7 linked regions of the Homo sapiens genome follow. The protein of the gene in region 2 purifies or fractionates together with the protein of the main gene of each other region. This does not show direct contact. Each region holds a gene or a part of one and is shown on either strand. Other genes may lie near its edges. The genes, in order: CCT6B, TUBAL3, RIC8B, NUDCD1, WRAP73, ITM2B and RAMP3.

Region 1 (4,216 bases), on a different chromosome or scaffold from region 2:
AGGAAGAAAGTCTTTCAAGGAGACAATAATCAGCTGTGTCATATGCTGCTGAAAGTTTGAGTACATTGCCGTGAACTGAGAGTTGATTGTTATATTTGGAAAACATTTACTTTTTTTTTCTTTTTTGAGACGGAGTCTCGCTCTGTCGCCCAGGCTGGAGTCCAGTGGCGCGATCGCGGCTCACTGCAAGCTCTGCCTTCTGGGCTTACGCCATTCTCCTGCCTCAGCCTCCCAAGTAGCTGGGACTACAGGTGCCTGCCACCAGGCCCGACTAATTTTTTGTATTTTTAGTAGAGATGGGGTTTCACCGTGTTAGCCAGGATGGTCTCGATCTCCTGACCTCATGATCCGCCTGCCTCGGCCTCCCAAAGTGCTGGGATTACAGGCGTGAGCCGCCGCGCCTGGCTGGAAAACATTTACTTTTTTAGTGGCTTTAATGAGAGCTGATTGAATAAAGAGGTGGAAATAAAAGTCAGATTGAAGGTGGCTCAAGAGAGAATGGTAACTGAGAGAAGTGTAGTTATGAAGGAGAACAGAGAAATGGGGCAGTAGCTAGAAGGGAATATGGGAATGGGGCTGAGGGAGAAGGATTTTTTGTATTAATGATAGGAATTGTTACTGCAAGTTTGTATGCTGGTAAGGATGGTTCTTTAGGTGAGAATTGATATAGGGGACTAGGGGACAGTGCAAGAACAGAGAGGGAAATGGAATCCAGTACACAAGTAGAGAGGCTACCCATAGAGAGGAACATGGACAGCTCATTCATAGTAGTAGGAGGTTCAGGGTCAAGTGCAAGTGGATTGGTAGAGGTAGTAATGGGACAATGTTTCTATTTTCTCAAAGAAACAATGTCATTTGCTGACAGTAGGGAGGGAGGAAAGTGAAGGAGGCTTGAAGAGTGAGGAATGTTGAACATAGTGTTATTGTTTCTAGATATGTTTACATTCTGTTAAGAGGTGGAGTAATCTAGTTAAAGTAAAATTTTGAAAACTTCCTTATAATTATGTTGAACTAAAATAGTTTAAAAATATATAACAAAAATTAGTTATAAAGGATTCATAAGTAGAAATTCCATCCCCTGAATGTTTTGTAAATGAATTTTATAAAGTTATAAAAATATTGACTCTTGAAAGATTATTTGGAAAACAGGAAGAAACACCTCCTTTCCAAATCATCTATATTCCTACTACCCAGGCATAACCCCTACTCTTAGGTCCCTCCCATTTTTTTTCTTTTTAATGCCAAGTTGTTTTTTTTTTTAAATTTATTTATTTATTTATATTTTTTATTATACTTTAAGTTTTAGAGTACATGTGCACAACGTGCAGGTTTGTTACATATGTATACTTGTGCCATGTTGGTGTGCTGCACCCATTAACTCATCATTTAACATTAGGTATATCTCCTAATGCTATCCCTCCCCGCTTCCCCCACCCCACAACAGGCCCCGGTGTGTGATGTTCCCCTTCCTTGTCTGTTGTTAAAAAGAACAGTTATAGGCATGCTTCATATGCAATTTGTCATTCTATGCTTATCAGCTAGCCCTATAAATATTTTTCCATGTTATTACATACTTTTTATAACCATCAAATAGTTGGGTCATTATTTGCTGAATAATACCCTATTGTTGGACATTTAGGTTAACAATTTTTAGTTGTTCCATATAATCATTTTGAATAAATGTTCCTAAGAAACTCATTGTATACGTACCTTTCATTACTTGATAAGCTGTGTCATATTTTTGAATCACATAACTTAGAAAATAATTCTGGCTTGACTTTTTATTGTGACTTCATAGTCACACTGTGTTAAAGTAGATTCTCTTTCCTAATTTTACTAATTATATGTTAGGTTTAAAGTCAATGCAAGGAGGTGGGTGAGGTGGTGCACTCCTTTAGTCCCAGCTACTTGGGAGGCTGAGGCAGGAGGATTGCTTGAGCCCAGGAGTTCGTGGCCAGCCTGGACATCATAGCAAGACCCCCATCTCTGAAAACAAAAAACAAAAACACCAAAAACTGTTAAAATTGGTACAAGGAAACAATGTGTGTCCTGGAAGTATTGATGTAACTTTAATAGTACAATGATAATTTTATACCAAATTTTAGAGTATATATTCAAAGTAAGAAACATTAATATTTTTAATAGGTTGATCCAAGGATTAGTTTTGGATCATGGTGCCCGTCATCCAGATATGAAGAAGCGAGTAGAAGATGCATTTATCCTTATTTGCAACGTTTCACTGGAATATGAAAAAACGTGCGTGTTACTTTCTCTTTATAACTTTTGAATTTTTTTTTCTAAAGGTGTTTTAAAATCTCTTTTTCCTTCCAGATGTTTGGTGTAGACTACTTCTATCTTTTTTCCTTTTTCCTCCTGCCTTTACTAGCTGGTTTTTATTAATCTTTTAGAGAGGTGAACTCTGGTTTCTTTTATAAGACTGCAGAAGAGAAAGAGAAATTGGTAAAAGCTGAAAGAAAATTTATTGAAGATAGAGTACAAAAAATAATAGACCTGAAGGACAAAGTCTGTGCTCAGTCAAATAAAGGATTTGTCGTCATTAATCAAAAGGTGAGAAAGAAAGTTTAGATTTTAGTTATTTGTAAATGTTCTTAAGCATTTCTTGAAGTGTGGTCTGTGGACCCCTAAGAATCCCTAAGACTTTTTCAGAGAGTCTGTGAGGTCAAAAACTATTTTCATAATAATAATTACACCTTTTACATTGTGTTGACATTTGCAATGATGCTGCAAAAGCAATCTGTAAAACTGCTGGCACCTTAGTACAAGTCAAAGAAGTAGCACCAAACTATACTAGTAGTCATCGCATTCTTTATTGCTATACCACTGCAAACTTACAGTGAAAAAAAAAAAAGGCAGTATCATTTAAGAGTGTCTTGATGAAGTGGTAAAACTTATTAATTTATTAAATTTTGATTCTGAAATATGCATCCTTTTATTATTATGTGTGACAAAATATGAAGTATGCACAAAGCACTGTTTTTTTTTTTTCTTTTGAGACAGGGTCTTGTTCTGTCATCCAAGCTGGAGTGCTTGGGTGGCACCATCATAGCTCACTACAGCGTTGACCTCCTGGGCCCAAGTGATCTTTCCACCTCAGCTTCCCAAGTAGCCAGGACTACAGGTGTGCATCACCATGCCTGGCTAATTTTTAAGTTTTTTCGTAGAGGCTGGGTATTGCCATGTTGTGCAGGCTGGTCTCAAGTGATCCTCTTGGCTTGGCCTCCCAAAGTGTTGGGATTATGGGGCTGGGAACTTCAAAGCTCTTCTATTGCATACCAAAATATGATGGTTGTCTTGAAGGAGAGCACTTGTGTAATTGTTTAAATTGCAAGGTAAACTAGCCACTTTTTCATGGAATGCCACTTTTACCTGGAAGAATGACTGACAGACAAACTGTGGTTATCTAGATATGGGTATTTGGTAGATTTCTCTCAAAAATGAATGAGGAAATTCTGTGACTTAAAACAACTGACAGTATTTGTTGTCAATAACATTTGAACTTTTTTAAAAAATTAGAATTTCAGAAAACTTGTATCTGCCATGTGAACTTGACAGCTTTCCAATACTTAAAAGACTTTCCTGATAATAGTAGTGATATTAACAAATGTGAGTTTTTGTTCACTGAGATAGGCAAAGTTTCCACATGCATAACATGACACAGTTTCTACATGTATAACACAACATTTTATATATGAAATGTGTCAACATGTGGAAACTTTGCCTAACTCAGTGAACTGATGCTATCTACATGACTAAAAATGCATGATTTTTATAAAATCATACATGGATAAATAATCCATTCAGTGTGCAAGTTACAGCAATGTGTTTTAATGTGAGATAGTATGAAAAGTTCATTGCTATGGTTCCATAGTGAAACTAACCTTTGAGAAACTATTACTTACTGAGTTTTGGTATAGTATCAAAGAAGAATTTCCATAATTATCTGAAAAGCCTATTAAAATATTACTCCCTTTACAATATTTATCTGTGTGGGGCCAGATTTTCTTCATAAACTTGAACCAAAATAACATATCATTCCAAATTGAATACTGAATGAGATATGAGAATCCATTTGTTTTCTATGAAGATAAACATTGAAGAGATTTGCAAAAATGTAAAGTAATGCCACTGCTAGCTCACTATATATATTTTTGTTTTCAAAAGTGTAGTAAATTTTCATTTAAAATGTTATGTGTAT
Region 2 (4,216 bases):
GCCGAGGCAGGTGGATTACTGGAGGTCAGGAGTTCAAGACCAGCCTGGCCAACGTGGTGAAACCCTGTCTCTACTAAAAATACAAAATTAGCAGGGCATGGTGACATGTGCCTGTAATCCCAGCTACCCAGGAGGCTGAGGCAGGGGAATTGCTTGAACCCGGGAGGCACAGGTTGCAGTGAGCAGCGATAGTGCCATTGAACTCCAGCCTGGGCAAAAAGAGCAAAACTCTGTCTCAAAAAAAAAAAAAAAAAAAAAAAAAAAACTTATCCACATGTAGTGACATGTGCCTGTAGTCCAAGCTACTCAGGACCCCAAAGTGGGAAGACTGCTTGAGCCCAGGAGTTCACTGAGCTATGATTACGCCACTGCACTCCAGCCTGGGTGACAGAACAAGACCCAGTCTCTCTCGCTCTAAAAAACAAACAAACAAACAAACATATTGGATGACTCCCCGGTTATTCATTCCTTCTGCCTTGCAGAGCAAGCTTGTCCATCCCGCAGCCCAGGATGGCTTTGAATGCATTCCCACGCAAATTGGTAAACGTTCTTAAAACATTATGAGATCGTTTTGCAATATTTTTTTTTGGTTCATCAGCTGTTGTTAGTGTGAGTATATTTTATGTGTGGCCCAAGATAATTCTTCTTCTTCCAATGTGTCCCAGGGAGGTCAAATTATTGGACACACTTGTTGTAGAAATGTCTATTAAGTTGTATCATATACAATACAATTAACTTTTTTAGATTAAAAAATAGTCATATACTGGCAATTTTATATGGCTCAATTTCAACAGTGTTGTTATAACTATTTATTTTTTCTTATTCACTAGATTAGGCTACTTTCCTGTTAAAAGACAATAGATTTAATAAGAAGGCAAACCTAGGACCAAACCCAGCTCTACTCTAATAACTCAGTGATCTTAAGCAAGTTCCTTGACTTCCCCAAGATTTATAAAGTTCCTCATCTATAAATTGAGGATGATAATAATGTCTCCTGACAGAGTGTTGAAAGAATTAGAGGAAAATACCTGTGCAGTTCCCCAACTAGTAAACAATAGCTGCTGTGGACTAAATGGCTGTGTCCCCCCACAATTCATGCGTTGAATCCCTAATCCCTGATGTGATGGTATCTGGAGGTGAGTCTTTGTGAGTAATTAGGTCATAAGGGTAGAGACTTCATTATGGGATTAGGGCCCTTATAAGAAGAGACACAGACTATTTCTCTGCCATATGAGAATACAGTGAGAAGGCAGCCATCTGCAAGCTGGGAAGAGAGCCTTCACCAGAAGCCAACCACCAGGCACCCTGGTCTCAGACTTCCAGCCTCCAGAATCGTGAGAAATCAACAACTGTTGTCTAAGCCACCGGGTCCATGGTGTTCCAATACAGCAGTCCGAGTTGACCAAGACAGGCATCTTCACGTCGAAGGCAAAAATCAACATTTATTCATCTTTGTACTTCTATCACCCAGCTGAAGTGTTTATGGGGTTGTATTCAATTCCTTCTTATCATGACCTTGAATTCGTCAGCCTCTCCTTTTCTCCACCCCTCCCACTCTCTCAGTCAACAGCCAGCACCAAGGGGCAGCGATGTAAATGAGTGACTTTCAAAGTGGATGCCCCAGTTCCCACTTGAGCCTTCCAAGCTGGTACCACATGGAGCACAGGCGAGCTGTCACCTCTGAGCCCCACCCAAACTGTAGATTCATGAACAAACCAGCAATCATTATTGCCTTAAACCACTAAATGTAGGGGAAGTTTATTACACGCCAACAAATAATGGGATGCACAACATCAAACCCAAATCTACCCCACTGTCTAGCTTTTCTCTTAAGTCAGTAAGAGCCCCTTCTCTCTCCTTTATTTTTCTAGCTCCATTTCAAGAGTTTTTGCATGACATACTACAAGTCTATTGTTAGTAATCATAAAATTGTACTGTTTTTCCCATAACTAGGGTATATATTTGGCCTCTTTTTCCTTTAGGATTCTTTTCAAATATTCTACTCTTTTTAAGCAGCTATCGAAAAACTTTTTGATTCTTTGCCAGTGCCTTCTAGCAAATGGCTCTCAAACCCAGGAAAAGACTTAGTGTTCTATTATGATATATGTGTGGATCAATTAGCAGGTCTTAATTCATTTCATCACACAGGTAAAGAAGGCTAACCTAGGCCAAGTGTGGTGGCTCACGCCTGTAATCCCAGCACTTTGGGAGACTAAGGCAGGTGGGTCACTTGAGGTCGGGAGTTCAAGACCAGTCTGGCCAACATAGTGAAACTCCATCTCTACTAAAAATACAAAAATTAACCAGGCATGATGGTGTGTGCCTGTAATCCCAGCTACTCAGAGGCTGAGGCAGGAGAATTGCTTGAACCCAGGAGACGGAGGTTGCAGTGAGCCCAGATCACGCTACTGCACTCCTGCCTGAGTGACTCATCTCAAAATAAATAAATAAATAAATTTAAATTCAAAAACACTAATCTGGTCTTCCCTTTGGGTGTGTTTGTCATGTTAATCACCCATGGCCACTGAGTAAGCCTCTACATTTGGGAAAGGTCCATGTGATTCCATTCAGATAGACCTGTATAATCTGCTAATCCCATCCACTTGATTTGTTTGAGTGTGGCTCCAGTTAAGTATGCTAGAATGGAACATTTATTGTACCTATAACAGTTGGCTCCAAGTCCACGAAGAGTGCTCTAGGCACATGCTTCCCAGCTCTTGTCTCACAGAAGAAGGTATCGAAAGATGCATTTGTGTGCTCCATTTTTGCATTTTCCAGCTGATCCTGTTGAGTGTCAAGAACAACGCCATTTGGCTGGATTCCATGTTCCAGGCAATAGAGTTCCCAGCAGGCGTCCCCAATCTGGATGCCAGCTTGACCGATGTGGATGGAAAGGCACTCCCTCTAAAATAAGTCATGGTGAGTTGGAACTGAGCAGGTGTTTAGAAAACAGGAGATCTGTTACTCAGCCCTTCTGGTTACAAATGACAGAAACCAAGCTAGCTTAAGGCCACGGAGGAATGTGTTATAAGGATAATCAAAAGCGTTTCATGGAAACCAAGACCCAGGGTACAGCTAAGCTTCAGGGAAAATTAAACCTGGGATTTAAATTCCATTAAAAAGTTTATTTTAACAACATAAATTAAGCACCTACTCTGTACTTGGCTAAGAATTGAATTAAGACAAACACACACAATGCAAATCAAAATACAACTAATTTTACTTTATTCTTTCAATATAGGTGAGATGTGTGTGTGTGTGTGTGTGTGTGCGTGTAGTTATATATATCAAGTGGGCTTGTCTAGAAATAAAATTAGCTAGTTATTGGAAAGAAATAAAACTAAAATCAATATATAGCCTTGTCAAGTACTAAAACTCATCGCAGATAAATTTAAAATGTTATCTTTACCATTCATATGCACTCTGAATAAGGATGGATATACTAAACTTAAAACTAGTGGGAAATTTTACAAGGCAAAATGCAATAGATTTAACAGTTCCAAAATGTAAAAGTTTTATAACAAACATATAGAGATAAAAATTGATTTTATATACATCAACTTTCTAAAAAAAAACACTTAAGACATCCACTAGCTAGGCAAATGATATAAACAAACAAATTACAAAAGAAAGACTCTAAAATGCAAGGATGTAGGCTGATGGCATTCACAAGCATCACAATTCATAAGCATGAAAACCAAAAACCAATCTATTTAATCTAACCATTTATATATTGTTGAGCATTTAAAGGATGTTACATCAACACAATGACATGTTATGCAACCCTTAAACGTTTTCCCAAAAAAAAAAGATTTATGACATGGGAAATGCTTATGATAACATATTAAGTAAAAAGCACATAAGATGCATGATTGCATATAGAGTATGATGTCCAATATGTTCAAAAATAGGCATAAAAATCTAAAAGAAAATGCATCAAGATATTAAGTTTAGTAATATCTGGGTAGTGATTTTATTTTCTTGTCTAAACTTTACTATTTCTTCCACCTTCATATTCCCCCATCCCACTTTAAATCATCTTTTTTTTAAGGCAAACAACTATTCTGTTAAACAGACAATGATCTACGTTTTTAAGAGAAGGAAAGAAAAAAAATGAGAAGGAAAGTAAAAGCTAAATTCTAAGAAATCTGAGGTGATAGCAATCGCTGTTCTTAATATTGGTGTGGTTTGATTGACTGTGGTGCTGAAACAAATC
Region 3 (4,216 bases), on a different chromosome or scaffold from region 2:
AAGTTCACATATATAATATTTTATAATACCTTATTACATGTTTCTCAACTTAAGGAGGATGGTAGATATTTCCTTCTTGAATAAAATTGTGTGGAAACAAAGGTGATCTGACTCCACCCCCAGGAATATACCACATGTGAAGCAGTATGTAGAATGTATTTTTTTGTCTTGAATATGAAAGATCTAAATATGGAGAAAATTTTCCCTGTTCTGTATACTTTTAATTAATGGGCACATTATACTTTCCACTATCCCCAAACTACATTCAAAAAAAGTGCTTTAACAATGATAGTAAAATATTAAGAGAAAGTCCTTTCTAAATATCAGGTATGGCAGGGATAGAATTGACAATGTTATGAAATTTTTTTTTGTCTTATCAGATAAAGTTCTTTTCCACATCTATTTAGAGAACGCAATACAGTCATCCCTCTGTATCGTGCAGTCTGCATCTATGAATTTAATCAATTGTAGGTTGAAAATACTCAAGGAAAAAAAGGATAGTTGTGTAGAACATGTACAAACTTTTCTGTCATTATTCCTTAAATAATAAAACGATTTACGTAGCATTTACATTGTATTAGATATTATAAATAATCTAGTGATGTCTTCAAGTATACAGTAAGAAGTGCATAGGTTATATGCAAATACTATGCCTTTTTTTTTTTTTTTTTTTTTTGAGACAGAGTCTCGCTCTGTTGCCAGCCTGGAGTGCAGTGGCATGATCTTGGCTCACTGCAACCTCCGACTCCCTGGTTCAAGTGATTCTCCTGCCTCAGCCTCCCGAGTAGCTGAGATTACAGGCACGTGCCACCATGCCCAGCTAATTTTTTGTATTTTTAGTAGAGACGGGGTTCCACCACGTTAGCCAGGATGGTCTTGATCTCCTGACCTCATGTTCCGCCTTCCTCAGCCTCTTGAAGTGCTGGGATTACAGGCGTGAGCCACTGCGTCCAGCCTTCTATACCATTTTATATAAGAGACTTGAGTATCTGTGGATTTTATTATCTGCAGAGGGTTCTGGAATCAATCCCACACAGATACCAAGGGATGACTACATTTAAAATAGGCATTTTTGTAGCTGATGACTATGTGCACATAGCCTAGGTTTCCTGACAAGATCACAATGGGACCCACAGGCAGCCTCTTTTTATTGAAGAATTAAGTCTGATGATAGATTAATAGAAATTTTGTAAAATCTTATATTGGTAATAGTAGTTGTTGTTTTTATAAGATGTAAGGGAGTACAGAAATGTTCGGTGATAGAGTAGTTATACCTGCTTGCCTCACATATAAGGGTAAGCTTGAGAGACCCAGACCTGCAGTTTGTAGAGAAGAAAACTGACATTGAATTTTGAGGGAGTGGTCAGTGATCCTTAAATTTGACAATGGTATAAAAAAATCCTTTTTAGGAAATATAAGATATTTGGGTTCATTCTAGAATTGTTTTTGAGATATTGATAGCAAGGTTTGGAACCAGAACTACTACATATATTTGTACAGTCTGTGCCCTACAGCAAGATAACAAAAGAAAGCTAAAATTCTGTCCACAGTCTGAGCTTTCCAAGCTATGTGTGCTTTTTAATAATTTGCCCACCCAGTGGGAACTTTTTTCTGTAGTTTGTATACCAGGAGGGGTCACCTTTTTGCAATTGGCTCAAGGCATAATAGATGCTAATTCAACTCTATTTGGAACCTAACACTTGAATAATTTTTTATCAGTTTGTCAGCAAAAGTTCTTCTCTGGGGTTGTTTGATGATTAAATATTATTAGATCTTAGCTAAAGGGGGTTCAAGGGTTTCTGAAACATGGGACTGCTGCTAAAGAGCTATAAATTCAGAAGCAATAGCATGACTAAAACTCAGCAGAAATGCATACTTCTTTAAGTCTTTTTGCAAGAGCCTGTACTCTGGACAAATATGAACCAATTCTTGAGACGTTAATCTTTATTTCTGGGAAGGGAACAGCTATGATTCAAACTGATTGTCTTCCATCCTGATGGTGACCTTATATTTCAGTTTCTAACATTCCGTGATTTAAAAAATAATAAAAACCTTTTCTCTCTGGATTTTTAACTGTTGTTAAGTACATTGGCAGAGAAACATTCTGTGTTAAGTCATTTGAGCCAAATAATGATTTTTGCATACTCGTTCTTGTTTTTCAGAAACTCTGTGAAGGCATATTTAAAGTCCTTATAAAGGACATCCCAACAACATGTCAAGTGTCCTGCCTGGAAGTACTCCGCATTCTCTCCAGAGACAAAAAGGTTTTAGTTCCTGTGACAACTAAGGAAAATATGCAGATACTGCTGCGACTAGCCAAGCTAAATGAGTTAGATGATTCTTTGGAGAAAGTATCAGAGTTCCCAGTTATTGTGGAGTCATTAAAATGTCTGTGTAATATAGTGTTCAACAGTCAGATGGCACAGCAGCTCAGCCTGGAACTTAATCTTGCTGCAAAGCTCTGTAACCTCCTGAGAAAGTGCAAGGACCGGAAATTTATCAATGACATTAAGTGCTTTGACTTGCGCTTGCTCTTCCTTCTGTCACTTTTGCACACCGACATCAGGTCACAATTGCGCTATGAGCTCCAGGGACTACCGCTGCTAACGCAGATCTTGGAAAGTGCCTTTAGCATCAAGTGGACCGATGAGTATGAATCGGCCATAGACCATAATGGACCTCCTCTCTCACCTCAGGAGACAGACTGTGCCATTGAGGCCCTCAAAGCTCTCTTCAATGTGACGGTAGACAGTTGGAAGGTGCATAAAGAGGTAAGGTAGAGAAGGCTATTTTTGTCTACCTGGAATTTAATTGGTCTGGGACATCCCTAGAGTTTCCTGCAAGAGAAGAATACAAGTTGGGAAATGGAAAAAGTTCCCACTTCTCCCATTAAGCAATTGTATTACCCAGGATATACTTCTTAACCATTGTAAGTCTTATTCTTTCCATTTGTGTGATAACACCTATCAGAATAGGTGTAAAAATGGACTACTATTTTGTAAGATGCCAAATATAGTTTTCTGAGTTGCATTATTCTCTCTTTTTAAGAGTGCCGCTTTCAGGAATAAGGTTTAAATTATAAGATTTGAGGGGAAACAAAACAATGTAGTTGATAAAGCTATAGGCATTTTCAGTGGCTGCCATCTTAAAGAAAAGTTAAGACAGATCAAGCCAATTGAAGTTGATCAATCAGAATTGGTGTCTGCTCAGGAGAGTAGAAGATGCTCTGTGTATGCCTGTTGTCCCAGTCTCTGGGAGGTTTCTCTGTAGTGTTAGATAACTATCAGAGGCATAGGACCACAACTAGATATCTGTGCTCATATATAAGTTCTAGAAAACAAGCTGATTATACCAGAGTGTGGGAAAGGTTATTTTAAACCACTTGACTTATTTCTAAACAAAGATCTTTCTTCACTGTGGCTTGGACCCTTCAGCAACCCAAAGTGACGCAGATTTGATAGTTTACATTTGAGTACCCACAAGAACAATATGCTAAATAGGAAACTTAGTTTAAGGAAGTCAACAAATTAAGTGAAGTAGACATAAGCTTTTTTCCCTCCTTCTAGAAGCATAACATGTCACATTTATTCTCTTTTTAGCTTTAAATAACTGTTGAAATTCACCCCCTCCTGTAAAAAGAAAGAGATTTTTGGTTCCAGAGCAAATTGTCTTTTTTGACAATTGACTTTAAGATTTAGGCTAACATTTGAAACACTTCTCACCCATGAGTAAAGATCTGTTTTTGCCAGCAGCCTACTTTAAAGGGATTATCTCAGTGCATTGTTATAGGGGGAATATGCAGACATCTGAGTTTTAAAGCGCAAATAGATCTGTATTTTGAAACTAAATATTTGAATATCAGCTCTAACAGCTGTTCTAGATGACTGTAGTATGGTCAGTTTTTCCTGGGACTTGGCAAGAAAAGATGTGGAAAGCCCACATGCTCCATTTATGCATTGAAACCAAATATTTGGAAGTATTTAAAATGTTATGTTTCTATGCTTATTTGGTACCTTCTATGGTTATTTTTCTTACGCTGTTTGTTTTGGGGTTTTTAAGTTCTCCATTTGAGACCTTAAATTCCAGAGACTGTTGGTTTGCCATTGTTAGAGCCCCCTGTTATTTAAATTATACCCAAAATAGTAGCTCACACTGTTCAGATTCCTGACAAAAAAGGGTTTAAAATTCAGTGGCTACACATCAGTATATTTATGAG
Region 4 (4,216 bases), on a different chromosome or scaffold from region 2:
CTGATGTACTGCTGTATTTGTTCACATTCTTAACATGATCTTACACGTCATGAGAGTGGGAATGTATTCAACCTCATGATTAAGTATTGTGTTGTCACTGTAATTATCACAATGAATTACATTATAAAGAAAAAATAACTATACTATATATGATACATATATCCTTGCAAAATTGTAAACTCACCTCAAAAATTTTAGGGATAAGTAGATTCTTAGCAAATAAATTGTAACATAATTTTTGTCCTACCAGCATTGGTCAGTTGATTCTCCTAAAGAATACATGTAGAGAGAGAGAGCGCACAATACATACGCACACATAAACAGATACAGGCAAACCCTCTATACAGTATGACCACACATATATGTATGTATTTACATAGTGTAAGAAATAAATATTAGAACTTAGGCCATATTCAAACATCACTCAGATCAGTAGTATCTGATATGTATCTTTTATATTAGGAAAAGCAAAATATTGTTTGAAAAGCATGGCATAATCTTCACATAACATATTTTTGGACCCTTGGAAAGTCACACTACTATTCCAACTACTTACCAGTTCTTCAGAGGTCAAATGCATCAAACGTTCAGCTATTGCAGCACACTGGGCTGAATCTCTTATAAGTTCCCCTTGTTTATCTCCAATTACTAGCTCTGGCCAGGTCAGTCCTTCATTCTTCTTAATCAAGGAAATCTCCAAGCTAGAAGTTTAAATGGGAAAAGTAATGTTACATTAAGCAATTATACAAATTATACAATCAGTAGCAAACATTGTTTGTTTCTATCTTCTATAGAAAGAACCCTCCGGTGTCCAGAGGATGGTTTACCAAAAATCTTGCTCATTTAAGTTTTGCATGTGATGGAAAACCTATAATCCAATGGCAAATAGTCCAGATTTAATAAAGAAAGAAAGTACCACTGGAAATGGTACATCAAATGGCCTGAAGAGAGGATTGCCTGGAAAGAGTCAAGTCATCCAGAAAGTACTGGTATGCAGTATGTTCCTGAACTTAATAGAAATACAAGAAGCATGGATCTATAAGACATCTGGGGAATGGTCGGGGGTGTGGGCATGTAAGCAAAGAGTAAAAGGGCTGTAATTAAAGGATAATTCTTTGTGTCTGGAATCAACAATTAACTTTATTTTCACAAACTAAGAGCCATAATATATGATTATTAACCTGAAGATCAAGCAGGTTAAATCAACGCAAATCTTAATTTTAAAATACAGATGTTAAATAACTGAAAAGTAGAAATAAGGAAAAAAATTAACTTTGGTAATACAGGGAAAAAAGATGTTAATGTGTTCTCTATTAACTTATTTAAAATCTAATTCTGTACATGTAAACAACTAAACAATTCCAGATGCACTTAAAATGGTCTGTCAGGGAACCCTGAGATCAAGGACTGATGCAGCAGGAAAGGGAAAGAGAGCAGAGTCAAGGCAGACTACGGACATAGGAGAAGAAGTAACTTGTCCCATGTTCCTCTGGAATAGGAAGGAAAACCCAAGTAAGATGCTTTGGGAGCACCCACTGCTATAACAGAAAAGGGGAGTGGTAATAGCTATTCCACAACAAAGCAACCTTTTCCATGTGCCATCTTTCGTACACATGTACCATATTAGCTCATGCCCTGGAACACAACTGCAAGAATACAATAATAACTATTATAGTTATCAAATAGGACACGCAAACTTACCAGCTGTTCTTTTTCAAGACTGTTACAATCACTACCTTATGAATTACAGCATTTAACATTTTTCTGAAACTACCTATTTTAAGAGACTATACAAAATAATAATATGAGTACTTATAATTAGCACTGAAAATTACTCCCACAATAAAAGCCCAGATTTAGTTACATCTTTTCTTTTTTTGAGACAGAGTCTCACTCTCTTGCCCAGGCTGCAGTGCAATGGCACAATCTCTCTTACTGCAACCTCCAACTCCCGGGTTCAAGTGACTCTCGTGCCTCAGCCTCCCAAGTAAGTAGCTGGGATTACAGGCCACGCCATCATGCCCACCTGGCTAATATTTGTATTTTTAGTAGAGACAGGGTTTTGTCATGTTGGCCAGGCTGATCTTAAACTCCTGGCCTCAAGTGATCTGCCTGCCTTGGTCTCCCAAAGTGCTAGGATTATAGGTGTGAGCCACCGTGCCCAGCCCCCAGACTGAGTTACATTTTCTAAGGATAAAGGTAATCTTGATAATAATGATGATGATAATAATAGTAATAATGACCATAGCTTATACTTACCTATATGTCAGGTGCTGTCTTAAGCACTTTACATGTTTTAACTCATTGGTTACAACAACCAAATAAAGTACTGTAAATATTATTATCATCACCATTTTACAAGTAAGAAAAAAAAGTACTGAGGTTAAGCAACTTGCCAAGGTCACAAGCTATTTAAACAGTCTGGCTCTAAGTCCATGTTCTTCACTACTGCACTATTCTGCCTCTCTGAAAAAATATATGTAAATAACTATTAAAGAACACTTACCCAGTGAACTGTTCTTAGTTGCTACCTAAAGAGGTCTGAAAGAGTTGATACAATCTGTTATAATTTCCAAACCATCATTAATTTGCACAGTTAATCAGTGCACCCTTCTTCTAAGACTGCATTTGTACGTTTTAAAACTAGTATTGTATGCTACCATCCAAGCAAAAAAAAAACCCCAAACAATGCCAAATATAATAAACTACAGATTAGTTAAAAAAATCTTTCCAAAGTGAGACAACAGTAACTTTTGAAAACGAGAGGTACGAATAATTTACTCAAGTACAGAAAATCGTGTTTTTAAAACAACAATACCACCTACGCTACATTGTAGTTATCTTTTTTAACACAAAATAATAATCAAACACCTCAAATTTAATGGAAAAATAATACTGATCTATGTTGATGCATTGAATGCTGAAACTACTTACATGAAGTCAAGCTATTCCCCCAGACCTTTGCTGGGTTACTGCTTGATGACTTACATTTAACAATATGTTCTAGTTGGCTTGCCAATTTGTAAATGTGACTCACATACACATAAACATAATTAAATGGAGTATGTGGAGATACAAAATACTTTTAAAAGAAACTTTCAAGCAATTATTTTTGATATATTAAAAAGTGTAACAAAATCACCAAATGTCTTCATTAATAAAATGTAAGATACCTTTTACAACTTCAAACTTTCTATGAGCTAGATATATTTTTCTTGGATGCTCATGATTTAGACTTGTATCAGACTCACATGGATCATATACTACTAATTAAGAACTATACTTTGTGTAAAAACATCTAAGTTATCCTCTATGTAACATCAACTTAAAGCACAAGATTTAGGTTGTATTTTAAATCAACCATTTCTCATTTCTGACCAAATTTGACTATTTAAAAAATTAACTGCCTAACTCTATTCATTAATCCATCACTGAATTTAATAATTACTAAGACTTGATTTAAAATAAAAGAAAGTAATTTTAGTAATCCAAATAATTGGGGAAAAAACTGCCTGGAATAATAGATTTGCAAAATGGCACAGTTGTGGGGGGCAAAGGATTATAATTTTAAAAGACACTTAACTTTATCTTTTTTTAAAAAGACACAGTTTTGCTCCTTTAATTGAGGTGTAATTTATAAATAAAATTCACAGGTTTTAAGTGTAGAATTTACTGATTTTGACAAATGCATACACCTTTGTAACCCAATGAGGATACTGAATTATTTCCACCATACAGGCAGTTCCCTTGGCCTTTCTTCAGTCAATCTCCCTACACCCTAGAGATAACAAGTGTTCTGATTTGTATCACCATAGATTAGTTTTGCCAGTTCTAGAACTCCATATGTGGAATCATACAGTATGATTTTTTGTCTTTGGCTTCTTTCACTCCACATGTTTTTAATTCATTCATATTGCTTTTTATTTATTGCTAGCACTTTATTACAGAGTAACATTCCATTGTATGAATATACCACACGTACTTATCCATTCACCTTTTCAGTAACACTAGAGATATTTCTGGCTTTTATAAGTATGCCTGCTATGAATATATGTTTGCAAATTTGTTTTGGCTTTGTTTTGTTTTTTAACATATATTTTCAGTTGGGCATGGTGGCTCACACCTGTAATCCTAGCACTTTGGGAGGTCGAAGCAGGCAGATCGCTTGAGGTCAGGAGTTCGAGACCAGTCTGAGCAACATGGCAAAACCCCATCT
Region 5 (4,216 bases), on a different chromosome or scaffold from region 2:
AGGCTGCACCTGTCCTGACCCCCATCCTGAGCACACACCGAGCCCCGGGGTGGGCCCGTCGGCACTTGGGGCACCGCTTCCTCTACCTGCAACCTTCAGATGCCCTCATGCCCCTGTGGGATGGGTGCTTTTACTATGCCCATTTCAGCGATGAGGAAACAGACACATAGGAAATGCCCAGAGTCAAGAGGCTGCATCAGAACCGGGCCTCAAGCCGGAGACAGCGCTCGGGAGCACCGCCGGGTTCCAGACCCACTCTGAGCGCCACCCACGGAAAAGTGTTTCTTTGAAAAACATCATTCTCGGAGCTCCGGAAAAACATCCCCTCGGAGCTCCCGCTGTCAGATCCGGGTCTCCAGGGCTCATATTCAGTAACAGAAGCCGCACCTTCACGGCCCACTGCGCAATTCAGACCCTAGTCAACCTCCAGCCAACAGGCTGAGGGGCACACTGGCTGGAAGCATGGAAGGGAAAAAAAGTTTTTTTTTTTAAACATAAGGAACATCCGAAGTTTATCTGGACAACGAGGAATCTTGCATTAAAAAAGGAAAACAAATGACATCACATGTGCTACTTACATTTACTCTCTGAGCTCGGGAGAGGGCCGGCCCCGGCCCGGGGCGGCGGGAAGGAGAGGCAGCCCAGTCCCAGCTGTGGGCTCTTCTCGGCCTCCTTATACACCACCTGAAAGACACAAGGTGGCCACGCCCGGCTCAGGACAGGGACCCGGAAGCCAAGGATGGACGTGGCAAATGCCCATGACAGCGCATGGTCAACAGGTGTGCCTGCCATGACAGCTGGTCCTGCTGCCACCGGGAGAGACGGAAGCACGAACCCCGCAGTCCCGAGAGCTGAGATCACCCAGCCACCCTCTCTCGTGTCCTGCTGAGGAGCCCACCCTTTGAGACACAGGCAGCAAATGTGTGCCCTGTGATTACAGACGGGAGACCACTGCAGCCACCATCATCCAGCAAGGGAGTGGGCTCAGCCTTCCCTCCGTGATAAGAGGATACAGAGAACACTTGCACCAACACAGCAGAGGCCCCGGGAGCAGCAGACACAGACCCGAGGTGGGGGCATCTGTGCCCGAGAGCCTGGCAAGCAAAGGACAGCGGCCCAGGCTCAGTGGAAGGCGGGCAGCCCCTACGCCCCTGAAGAGCCCCAGGTAAGGGAGTCACCTGGCCTGGTTCATGCCTTTAAAGCATGCTCTGCTGCTGTGTGGCGAAGGGATTTGGAGAATGCAGGAATCACAGGCAAACCTTCAGGACCTGTGTGGCCAGCCCTGCTCGGGCTCACCTGTCCAGACACCCTGGCCTCCAGCCACACAAGCCACTGGCCACGTCAGGAGGCCCCTCTGCCTGAAACACCCTTTCTGCCCAGACACCGCGCAGCTCCTCCTCCTGGTCTTCACTTAAACACCCCTCCAGGATGCATCCCCGGCAGTGGCTGATCTGGCATGCGCAGCCCCAGCCACTCACTGGCCTCTTCATCGAATCCAAGCCGCCTTTCACTCAGCTCTGTCGGTTACAGGTCAACACCAGGAGGGCAGCATTTGTCTCTGGCTCCCAGCGCAGTGCCCGCTGCACACATGGATGCGTGGCCCACTCCTCGGGGCCTTTGCATTTCCTGTTCCCTTGGCCTGGAACGCTCCCTCCCCGAGTCCCTGATCACTGGTGCAGCATCTGTGCCTGCGATCCCTCGCTGGTGGCCACTCCCTGCCACCCCGTGGAGACACCCAGCTCTCCAGCCCCTTCCCTGTCTCTCCAGCCGCACTCTGCAAGTGCAGGGGTCTGTCTCTTCTTCTCTGGCTGCGGCCCAGAGCACAGTGCCTGGCACGACAGCAGATGCCCAGTGTTTGGGGGCAGGAGACCCTGGCCACTCTGTACAGCACAGGGATCTGCATCCAGACAGACCACAAAGGAGAAAACTGGACTGGGGTGGCAGCGGCAGAGGACAGGCCAGGGCAAGGCCCACTTCAGACCCTTTGGGCAGCGTGGAGGAGGAAGAACAAAGGCCAGGGCAGGGCCAGACGCGTGAAATGTCACAGTAGCAAGTTTACGGTGATGGAAGTGCCCGGTTAAATAATAAACCACAATCAAGAAAGCAAAGTGAAGGAGCAGTTTCCCACCGCCCTCCCCAACAGCCTGCTCAGGCAGAAACACGTGTTCCAGACTTACTATCTTGGGATCATTAATGGCTGCAGGATGCCCAAACTCCGTGATCATTTTCCAAGTCACGTGATTAAGGATGCGCACCTGAGGAAGGAAACCATGCACAGGTGAGGCAGGGCCCGGCCCGCTGGGCGGTCGGACTTCCTGAGTGCCCTGCACTGGTTCCCACCTTTCCATCATAGCTCCCAACTGCCAGGAACTGACTGCTGGGGCTCCAGGCCACAGACTTGATGCCCAGGGACCACTCGTAAGCGCTGTACGTGGACAACAACCGGCCATCCAATGAGTACAGCAGAATCTTGTACTGCAGATGAGACATTTCAGTTAATAATGAATACACCCCCGTCGCCAGGAACACACCACAGACGCGGGTGCTGCAGAGTGACATTGGTGCAGATAGCACAAAGCTGGCAGGACTGTCCGCGTGGCCGTGGAAAAGCTGGAACTGCCAGCTAGTACTGAGATAGTCACGGAGAGGCAGTGAGAGCATGAGGAAAAAGGGGAAATTGGGAGGTCAACCTAATGGCTCGCTGATAAAAGTTCAACTCGGCCGGGCACTGTGGCTCACGCCTGTAATCCCAGCACTTTGGGAGGCCGAAGCTGGCAGATCACTTGAACACAGAAGTTCAAGAGCAGTCTGGGCAACACGGTGAAACCCCATCTCTACAAAGAATACAAAAATTAGCCGGGCGTGGTGGTGCATGCTTGTGGTCCCAGCTACTTGGGAGGCTGAGGTAGGAGGATCACTTGAGTCCAGGAGGTCGAGGCTGCAGTGGGCCGTGATCACACCACTGCACTCCAGCCTGGGTGACAGAGCAAGACCCTGTCTTTTAAAACAAAGCTCAACTTGTTATCTGAAATAAGATAAAGCAAACTATATTGCAGCATTCAGAAAGCATGAAATTCCGGGAAAAGCTCTCGAAAGCAAACATGTCACCTGGTCATCTTCATACCTCCAAGCAGGTGTCCCACACTGCCAGCACACAGCCGTTTGGGGCCCACTCAATCCCTGTGAGATCCTGGGTGTCCGTATCAAAATGCTTCCAAAGGAAGGGGGGGAAACATTAAATTTGGAAAATATTTTCGTAAATAAATAATTGCATTTATGACTGATGTTCTTAACGCACTTAATTTCCTTATATAGAAATTGACAAAATCTCAACAGCTCTATCCTGGAAATGCATGAAATCCCTGTAGAGCTGCTGCTGGGGCTGCACCGCCACAGATGCCAGCGTCAGTGCCTGGCCAGCCCCCAAGGGCGGCTTGGTCTCCCCGCGCCTGCACTCGTGTGCACACTCTCCCCCTCACCTTTCCTTGCCTGGCCAGCCCCCGAGGGCGGCTTGGTCTCCCCGCGCCTGCACTCGTGTGCACACTCTCCCCCTCACCTTTCCTTGCCTGGCCAGCCCCCGAAGGTGGCTTGGTCTCCCCGCACCTGCACTCATGTGCACACTCTCCCCCTCACCTTTCCTTGCCTGGCCAGGCTCACTCCTTTAGACCCAGCTCAGACAAGTCCCTTCCAGAGCACTGCCTGGATCCCGGGTTCTGCACTCTGACAGCATTCCAGAGGTTGCTCTACCTTAATGATGGATTGTGCTGGAATCGTGTTCATATGTCTGCTGTGGGGGCAGTGCCCTCTGTGCCTGGGCACCTGGCAGAGCGCCCTGCCTAATGCAGGCCCTCAGTCAAGGTGAACTTCCACGTCCCCCCAACTCCCGACGTGGCACACACATGCGCAAACACCATCACACAGGACAAGGAAAAGGGCTCAAATGTGACAGCATATTCACTTTTAAAACACCTGGGCACGCGTCCTTTTCACCAAGTCTCCTGAACACACAACCGGGTGCCACTGGAAGTGATTCGCAGCGCACCTGCCCTTTGTTAATACAACATCACCTTGCTCCATATCCTACCAAAGATCCCCTGGAATCTGGAAGGATCTACTTCACTCGATCCCTCCACAGTCAGCAGGACAACTTTATTCCAGTCTGGGGGACGCCTTACCCGCAGGAGCTGCCAATCACTGCAGACGAAGATGCTCACGT
Region 6 (4,042 bases), on a different chromosome or scaffold from region 2:
CTGAGGTGGGAGAATCTCTTGAGACTAGGAGTTTGAGACCAGGCTGGGCAACATAATGTAGGCAAGACCTCATCGCCACAGAAAATAAAAACATAAATATATATATTTTTTTAATTTAAAAATTTGGCTGGGCGCAGTGGCTTACGCCTGTAATCCCAGCACTTTGAGAGGTCGAGGCGAGTGGATCACAAGGTCAGGGATTCGAGACCAGCCTGGCCAATATGATGAAACCTCATCTCTACTAAAAATACAAAAATTAGCCGGGTGTAGTGGCGGGCACCTGTAGTCCCAGCTACTTGGGAGGCTGAGGCAGGAGAATTGCTTGAACCTGGGAGGCAGAGGTTGCAGTGAGCCAAGATCACGCCAGTGCACTCCAGCCTGGGCGACAGAGAGACTCCGTCTCAAAAAAAAAAAAAAATTAAAATTTAAAAATTACATTAAAATGAATCAATGAGAAGCAGCTACCATTTCCATTTTGTGTCTCTACTATCCAAACCCATTCGACCCCAAAACATGCAGATTTTTTAAAAAAGCAGTCCCTTTCTCAGAGTGTTGTCTCCAAGAGGCCTTTTACCTGTGAATCAGTCTGAATTTCAATATACTCTTTGCCATTTTTTTCCTCCATTGTGATTCAGCACTATCACATTTAAGGGATCCCTACCTAAGAGGTAATTTGAACTTCGGGTATTAAAATAAAGTAATAGATTTTGATTCTGTCTACTGAAGGCACAAGGCCCAGCTCACTTTCTTAACATGGCAACATCACTAGCACCAAATCTGAGGTGTACAGAACTTGCATTCCTGTGGCCATTCCCACTCCCAGATGAAATTCTGAAACTACAATTAAAGAAAAAAAAAAGGGAAAAAAGCCAAGTTTGGTTTTGTTTGTTATCAGTTGCCCCTGAAGTCTATATAACAGAGCCAATTTTTAAAAAGGAGGCTACATAGAACCATGTTAAATTTATTGAACAAAGTTCATTCAGTAAATATTTAGTGAGTTCCTAATACGTGCCAGGTGCTTTACTAGGTGCTGAGGATGTAACATGAACAAAAATAATAAAGTCTCTGTTTTTAGGGAATTTACATTTTATTTGTAGAGACAGACAATAAACAAATACAAACATAAATACATGTCAGATGGTGATAAGTACTATAGAGAAAAATAAGGTAGTGTGGTCATGGCCAGGAAGGCCCCTAAGAGGGCAGAATGGAAAAGTCTAAGAGCAGAGGCATAGATAAGGAGCAATGCTCATAGCCACAGGGATACCTGGGCATAAGCCTTCTTGACCAATGACCATATTGCTCACTGGGCAGCAATATGATAGGGTTAAAGGAAGGGAAGCAGTGCCCACGGTTCTGTGCTTCTCTGCCCTAGTGGACATCTCATTCCACATGGGCTATGGAAATGACCACCTTCTGGAAAAGCCTCTGTGAGAAAAGAAGGGAAGCCAAGGGAAAGCTTGTCTCCAATTACTCTCTCATTTATTCTTTGCATTGTTTATTGGCTGTTTGAGGAATCTTGAGCCAAGTCCTAGTCATTATTTTTGCCCATCCTCGAACTTGAAACAGTCTTCATGGTCTGGCCTGCATTGTGCTAATCTGTATTGTTAAGAATACACTACAGACAGACATTGCCAGCATTGAGGGTGGAGGTGAGACTCACTTTAGAAAAGGTGATCAGGCAATACCTAATGAAGTGACATTCCAGCAGACTTAACTGAAGGAAGGCAGTGAGCCTTGGGATACATGTGAGGGAAGGAGGGTGTGGAATTCCTGGCCCAGAAACAGCAAGTGCAAAGGCTCTGAAGCAGGATTGCCCTTGGTACGTTCAAAGGAAAGTGAGGCAGCTGTGTGGCTGTAGAGGAGTGAGAAAGGGGGAGAGTTACAGGAGGTGATGTAAGAAGAGCTTTGGAGGCCTAGATTACCTACAGGTAGGGCATTGTTCGACTTTTATTCTGAATAAAATGTTGGGATTTGAGCAGGGGAGTGACATGATGTGGCTTAGATTTAGAAAAGATCGCTCTAGCTACTCTGTTTAGAAGAGGCTCTAGGGGTCAAGTATGGAAGCAGGAAGATCAGTTGTGAGGCCATTGCACCAATCCAAGCAAGAGATGATAGCAGCTTTGACTACTATGTTAGCAGTAGAGACAGTGAGAAGCGGCTGAATTCTGGATAATCCGTATCTTGAAGGTAGAGCACACCAGATTGGCTGATGGATTTGATGTGAGGTTTATGAAAAAGAGAGGAATCTAGAATGACTTCCTATTTTTAGCCTGTGCAACTGGAAAAAAAAAGGAGCTGAGATGAGGAAACCATGGGAGGAAAATCAAGTTTGCCTTTGAACATGTTGTATCTGATAATGCCTATTGGACAAGCAAAATGGGAATTTGGAAAAGACAGCAACGTATGCCTTAAGGGGAATTTATATGAGAAGGTACCCAAGTTATACTAGTTTACTTGAAGGGATACATTACATATTTGGTTAGACCTTCCATTCTAAAACAATGAGAAACTGAAATTTATAAATGGTTCTTGGTGTTTGTTATGACTGTAAACCTAATAATACTTGGACTCCTGCATTGTCATGTATTTATTATGTATATTTTACCAATCTACCCTCAAAAAGATATGTTTACAATAAAGATGATTTTGCAATGAAATCATTAAACAAACACTTTTTAAAACATGAGCTATCTACAAAGACTTGTACATGCATGTTCATAGCAACTTTATTCATACTTCCCAACTTGGAAACAATGAAAATACCTACACAGAAAAAAATGATAAATTGTGGTATACACAAAAAATGGAATACTGGCAGGGCACAGTGCCTCACACTTGTAATCCTAGCACTTTGGGAGGCCGAGGAGGGTGGATTGCTTTGAGCCCAGGAGTTCGAGACCAGCCTGGACAACATGGCAAAACCCCATCTGTACTAAAAAAAATAACAAAAACAAACTAGGTATGGTGGCATACGCCTGTAGAGTCTTAGCTACTCGGGAGGCTGAGGTTAGAGGATGGCTTGAGCCTGGGAGACAGAAATTGCAGTGAGCCGAGATGATGCCACTGCACTCCAGCCTGAGTTGACAGAGCCAGACTCTGTCTCAAAAAAAAAAAAATAAAAAATAAATTTAAAAAGCACACACACACACACAAAACCAAAAGAAATGGACTACTACACAGCAACTGAAAAGAAAGAACTGCTGAGTCATGCAACAACATGGACAAATGTCAAAACGTTATACTGAGTTTTAAAAGCCAAACAAAAAGATTATATATGTACGATTCCATTCAAATAAAGTTCAAGAATAGCCAAAAACTGAACTATGGTCATAGAAATGAAAAAGTAGTTTTAGCAGAGGGAAGGAATATTTGCCGGAAAGGAGCACAATGGTATTTTCTGGGGCAATGAAAATGTTTTGATGATTGTTAACATGGACAAAGAAAAGTGTCAAAACTCACTGAGTTGAACACTTAAGATATATGCATTTCGTTGCATGTAAACTATCTATAAAACTCACAACAAAATATGAGCAAACTGAAGGGTTACTTCAAGCCCTACCGAAAGGGTGATATACAGAAAAACCTAGGCTGAAAGTAATTAATCTAAGCACCGAGTTTGGCTCTGAGTTTCCCAGCAACCAAGGCAAAAGGGAAGCAAATGAATTCTTTAGATGTACTACCTAATATTAACATGTATCCTATGTGAAAAAAATTTTCCTAACACTAAATTTTAAAATACTTAGATAAGAAGTACTAGATATGACATAATGCTTTTAACAGCACTTTACAAAAGCTGAAGAAACATTTCTGGCTCATTTTTATTTCTATCAATCCTCAACAAAAGTCAAGAGAATAATATCATGCCATGGTTATACAAAGACATTTCTATGGGGAGCTAAAGGAAGGCACTCATAATTTTTTAGAGTGTCAGCTAGCTGCAGGGCTAGAATCTAGGGACTCATTCCAGAGACATGAAGGATTCTCAAATTTCACAGGCTCATCTTCCTGGATGCCTCAGCAGTGTTTCTGACAGAACTTG
Region 7 (4,216 bases), on a different chromosome or scaffold from region 2:
TGGGACCACAGGCATGTGCCACCACACTCAGCTAATTTTTTTTTTGTTATTTGTAGAGACAAGATCTCATATTACCCAGGCTAGGCTCCAGTGATCCTCTCGCCTTGGCCTCCCAAAGTGCTGGAATTACAGGCATGAGCCACCGCACCCAGCAGATAATTGGAGAATACTCCTCTCTCAATAATTTACAGAACAAGTAGATAAAAATCAGGAAGCTATTAGAAAACGTGAACAGAGGAGGAACAGAGGTGTCCAGGGCACAGGCAGGAGCACAGTGGAGCTGGGTATACTGTGTGTGGAAGGGTGGGGTACACACCATTGTGGGTGTAAAGGAAAGAAGAAGTGACTTTGGAAAGGTAGACCCAGGGCAAGGTTGGAGCAGGATGTACAGGTCTTCAGAGTTTATTTAAAGTCTAATAGAAAGGCAGAAGTGGGTTTTCAGCCACAGTACTCTCCCACTTAACCCAAATAGGCCCTCTGAACCTTCACATCATGGAATCCTGGGCAAGCATCAGCCAGGACTGAAGCTGGCGTCCCTTCAAGAGAAGCCATACCATCTCTGCAGGAATGGAGGCCCGTGTCCTTCTGAAGCTTGACCGTGCCACCCTCCAGATGCCCCACTGGCACGGAGCCAGAAGACAGAGACCTCATCCTGTTTAGTTCCTGATTTGCTGTGTGACTCCAAGCAGGGCCCTTCACCTTTCTGGTCCTTTGTCTCCCCATCTGTAAAAAAGAGTGATTCTGATTCTGTGTGTTTCCATTGGTTAATAATTGTGCACCTACAAAATCTCTGTCAAGGTTAGCTTCCATCGGGCCCCAACTTCCTATTCCCACCACTGCTGACCCCAGCCTCCAGCTTGTCCCACCCATGAGCTGCTGCTCCACGACCCTCTGGCTGCTGGCAGCACCTGCCCCTCTTCCTCCACAATCAGACTGTCCCCCATTACCACAGCCTCCTTCCTGGACACCAGCAGCTCCCACTTCTGTGTATCCCAAGCTGCTGACCCCAGGTTCTCTTGTAGCACAGCTCTAGACCCTGAAGTGCTTTGAAGGAACCAAAAAGTAATAAGAGACTCAAAAGTGAAGCCATTCTTCTATAAGGCTGGTAGGGACCACCATTCATGAACCCACCCAGAAAGCCCTGAGGCTTGGGGGCTCTATCCCTAGTTCCTCTGGGCACTGTCATCTTTCAGGGCAGCCACCAGAGATAGGACAGACCCAGCAGAGTCAACTGCACAATAGGCTCACCCAGGCCACAGCCCAGGCCTATTGCATGGGAGCCTCTGGGGTGTGAAACCAATAATTCATGTTTGTTAAAACCTCCAAGTGATTCAGACATGGGGTCAAGGCTGAGACTGAGAGATGGAAAGCAATGTGTCTCCACTCAGATGTGCAGGCCATCACCTGAAGACCTCAAGCAATGTAGATTCCAGTCCAGCAGGCTTGGAGGCCAAAGCACTCATCTCTGCAAGCTCCAGGCAAGCCCCTTCTGCAGGTCCGAGGACCACACTCCAAGGAGTAAGGGCATGGGGGATGGAAGAGCAGCAAGCAGGAGCCAGAAGGCTCTAGGTGCTCACCTCGGCTCTGCCCCTGACCCTGACACTCACTCACTTGCCCCTCTGAGCCTCAATGTCCCCATTCAGAAACAGAACCAGTGGCACCTACCTGGCAGACCCTTGCCCCATTTCTCTTTCCCTTCAGCCAGGCTCTCCACCCCCCTCAGTACTGACCAGTGCTCCCTGAATGCCCTGTTCTAAGTGTGGCCCAACCCGCCAAGCCCTACAACAGCCAGACAGGGCAGGTACTTAAAGACTGAAACCCTGTGGCAGGGTGGGTCAGCTGCTTCCTCACTTAGACAAGGCAGGGGAGTCAAGGTTCAAAGCCAGGCCACCTGCCCACAGAGCTGTCTCCAGGTGGCATGTCACCATTGCCTCACACTGACACCCTCACTCCAATTCCCACCCTTGGTCTGCCAAGCAGGGCTGCATCCAAGGCTCACCTCCTTGCCCTGAGGGCTCCTGGCTGGAGTGGCCCCACTTAGCCCTGGTCCCCGATCCCCACCTTCCTTTCCTTCTCTCCCAGTGGGCACTTCCAAGCTCCATGTCAAGCCTGGGCTCTGCAACAGATTCTGGAGTACAGGTCGGCATTGATCCTGGGAAGGGCCTGAAAAACATCATGCCTCCTTCACCACCTCCCTCAGTTTAGAGATGGGACGATGGAGGCCCAAAAGAAAGCGACTTTCCCAAGGCCTCCCTCTGCCACCCTGCTCAACTGCACCTGCCTGCAGGTGAAAAGACAGCCCTGGCATAAGTGACCAAGGGGTGCAAGCCCCAGGGACCACGTGGAGTCACACGAGGACTAAGGCGGCCTGTGCACCTTCACCCTAAAGCTGCCCCTGCCTTGGACTCTGAAGGTTCGCCTAGCTGCTCTCCACATCCAGCTCCTGTCCTCACCCCTGGGTCTGGCGTCACTCCCTAACAGATTCTCTCAGCACCCTTGGGTGGGTCTCCTGAGCTCCGCCCACCATCCCAATGGGCACGAGCCAGGCTAGCCCCACCCTGTCCCTCCTGGCCAGTGCCCACACCTGCAGCCTGGTCCACCTGGACCCCTAGGTCTGAATCTGAACCCCTAGACCTGGACCACTTGGCCTGGTCCCCCCTCAGCCTACTCTGACTGTCACCTATCAGGCCACCGAGACCCAGCCCAGTTCTTCTTCCTCCTCTGCCTCCCCCTCCTTCCCCTTCTTCCTCTCTTCCTCCTTCCCCTGTCCTTCTTTACCCTCCTCCCCCTCCCCTGTTTCCTCTCCTCTCCTTCCTTCCTCCTCTTCTTGGAAGTCAGAATGAATCTGAACCACTGCCTTCTCCTCCCCAGCCCTTTCCTGGAGGTATTTGCCGCAGCCAGCCCAAGTCATGGCTGTTCCTACAGCCCACCTCCCTACACAGGGCCTGTGTCTGCCACATTTTCACATTAACTATGATGCTCTGAAACACAGCTCAGGGACAAGGTCCTGATAAGTATTCATTACCCTCAGGCAACTATTATTCTCCCTGAGCCCCTGATCTCCCTCACTGAGCCAGGCAAAGACAGCATCAATTCCCCACCACCCCCAGTGCCAGGGCATTGCCCAGCCCCTCCCCCACGGCTCTACAAATACCCACCCAGGTCGCACAGCTATCTAAAAAGAGAAGGAGGGGTCCCTGACAACATGCCCCTCCCTGAATCTCTGCATGCCCCAAATCTCTACATACTCCATAATCTTCACATGCCCCATCGCAAGGACCTGGCTCAGGCAGATTGTAAATGTGCCTTTGAGGACCACATGCCATCCTCAGGCAGGTGTTCTGGGATAACTCCTCTACCCACGGAGGTGCTATGAGGATGCCTGTGACAGCACCAGCCCTGGGCCTGCACAAGGCAGGCACCCTGAGAAACCAAGTGCCCTCCCCAGGGAGCTCATTTCTAGTGCACATGAGGCTTGAGGGGCTCCCAGCAAAACCTGACAACCCACCCAATGTTAGAACAATGGTGTAAAGACAGATTCCTGGCAACACCACAAAAGAGGGCCATTGCCAATCAAGCTACTGGCTGCATTAGTAAAGGTCGCAGGAACTGAATCAAAATAGAAATCCATTTTGGTTGGTTTCATTGGGAAACAAAGAACATGCCGGCCTGTGTTTCTTTTGTCTCAGGGACTTCCAGACGCCACTGAGAGATGATAAACAGCCAAACAGATGCATTTCCGCCAGAAAGGGCTTTTGTGGCTAGTCATTTGGAAATGAAACACAGGCGCTCTCCCCCTCCTTGACAGAAAGAGCATCGACGAGACTGGCAAGTGGCTGCCATGGGCCACGGTCAGTCGACCTTGGGAGGCTGTGGATTCTGGGCGGTTCTGCCCCTGGTCTCTGTGGTTGGGCAACTTCCTCTCTAACCTCCAGATTTCTGTTTCCTTATGAAGAATAGGTAAGAGCATGGAGGTCAGATAACCTCCAAGGAACCTCCAGTGCCAAAAATCTATGGGCCTCTTCTTGGCCAATCACCACCTTCAAGTCTTTTTTTTTTTTTTTTTTTTTTTTTTTTTTTTTTTTTTTTTGAGGCAGAGTCTCGCTTTGTCACCAGGCTGGAGTGCAATAGCATGATCTCGGCTCACTGCAATCTCCGCCTTCCAGGTTCAAGCGATTCCTCTGCCTCAGCCTCCTGAGTAGCTGAGACTACAGGT

What was found.
Region 1: the proteins of TUBAL3 (region 2) and CCT6B purify together in Homo sapiens (affinity purification with mass spectrometry; 2 studies listed by BioGRID and IntAct, with this or other methods). This does not show direct contact.
Region 3: the proteins of TUBAL3 (region 2) and RIC8B purify together in Homo sapiens (affinity purification with mass spectrometry, with the first as the bait; one large-scale study listed by BioGRID). This does not show direct contact.
Region 4: the proteins of TUBAL3 (region 2) and NUDCD1 purify together in Homo sapiens (co-immunoprecipitation; one large-scale study listed by IntAct). This does not show direct contact.
Region 5: the proteins of TUBAL3 (region 2) and WRAP73 purify together in Homo sapiens (affinity purification with mass spectrometry; one large-scale study listed by BioGRID and IntAct). This does not show direct contact.
Region 6: the proteins of TUBAL3 (region 2) and ITM2B purify together in Homo sapiens (co-immunoprecipitation; one large-scale study listed by IntAct). This does not show direct contact.
Region 7: the proteins of TUBAL3 (region 2) and RAMP3 purify together in Homo sapiens (co-immunoprecipitation; one large-scale study listed by IntAct). This does not show direct contact.

Annotation. Positions count from the first base shown.
Region 1 is NC_000017.11:34,940,836-34,945,051, reverse strand, and holds part of CCT6B (T-complex protein 1 subunit zeta-2), read left to right. Parts: intron 1-2,145; coding exon 2,146-2,256; intron 2,257-2,408; coding exon 2,409-2,568; intron 2,569-4,216. UniProt on the Homo sapiens protein: Component of the chaperonin-containing T-complex (TRiC), a molecular chaperone complex that assists the folding of proteins upon ATP hydrolysis.
Region 2 is NC_000010.11:5,398,184-5,402,399, forward strand, and holds part of TUBAL3 (tubulin alpha chain-like 3), read right to left. Parts: intron 2,905-4,216; coding exon 2,661-2,904; intron 1-2,660. UniProt on the Homo sapiens protein: Tubulin is the major constituent of microtubules, a cylinder consisting of laterally associated linear protofilaments composed of alpha- and beta-tubulin heterodimers.
Region 3 is NC_000012.12:106,812,534-106,816,749, forward strand, and holds part of RIC8B (chaperone Ric-8B), read left to right. Parts: intron 1-2,162; coding exon 2,163-2,771; intron 2,772-4,216.
Region 4 is NC_000008.11:109,274,796-109,279,011, forward strand, and holds part of NUDCD1 (nudC domain-containing protein 1), read right to left. Parts: intron 702-4,216; coding exon 557-701; intron 1-556.
Region 5 is NC_000001.11:3,632,820-3,637,035, forward strand, and holds part of WRAP73 (WD repeat-containing protein WRAP73), read right to left. Parts: coding exon 4,176-4,216; intron 3,212-4,175; coding exon 3,125-3,211; intron 2,476-3,124; coding exon 2,341-2,475; intron 2,256-2,340; coding exon 2,178-2,255; intron 685-2,177; coding exon 579-684; intron 1-578.
Region 6 is NC_000013.11:48,267,384-48,271,425, reverse strand, and holds the end of ITM2B (integral membrane protein 2B), read right to left. Parts: 3' UTR 1,069-4,042; downstream 1-1,068. UniProt on the Homo sapiens protein: Plays a regulatory role in the processing of the amyloid-beta A4 precursor protein (APP) and acts as an inhibitor of the amyloid-beta peptide aggregation and fibrils deposition. Plays a role in the induction of neurite outgrowth.
Region 7 is NC_000007.14:45,160,205-45,164,420, reverse strand, and holds part of RAMP3 (receptor activity-modifying protein 3 precursor), read right to left. Parts: intron 2,164-4,216; coding exon of another isoform or gene 2,000-2,163; intron 724-1,999; coding exon of another isoform or gene 555-723; intron 1-554. UniProt on the Homo sapiens protein: Accessory protein that interacts with and modulates the function of G-protein coupled receptors including calcitonin gene-related peptide type 1 receptor (CALCRL), calcitonin receptor (CALCR) and G-protein coupled estrogen receptor 1 (GPER1).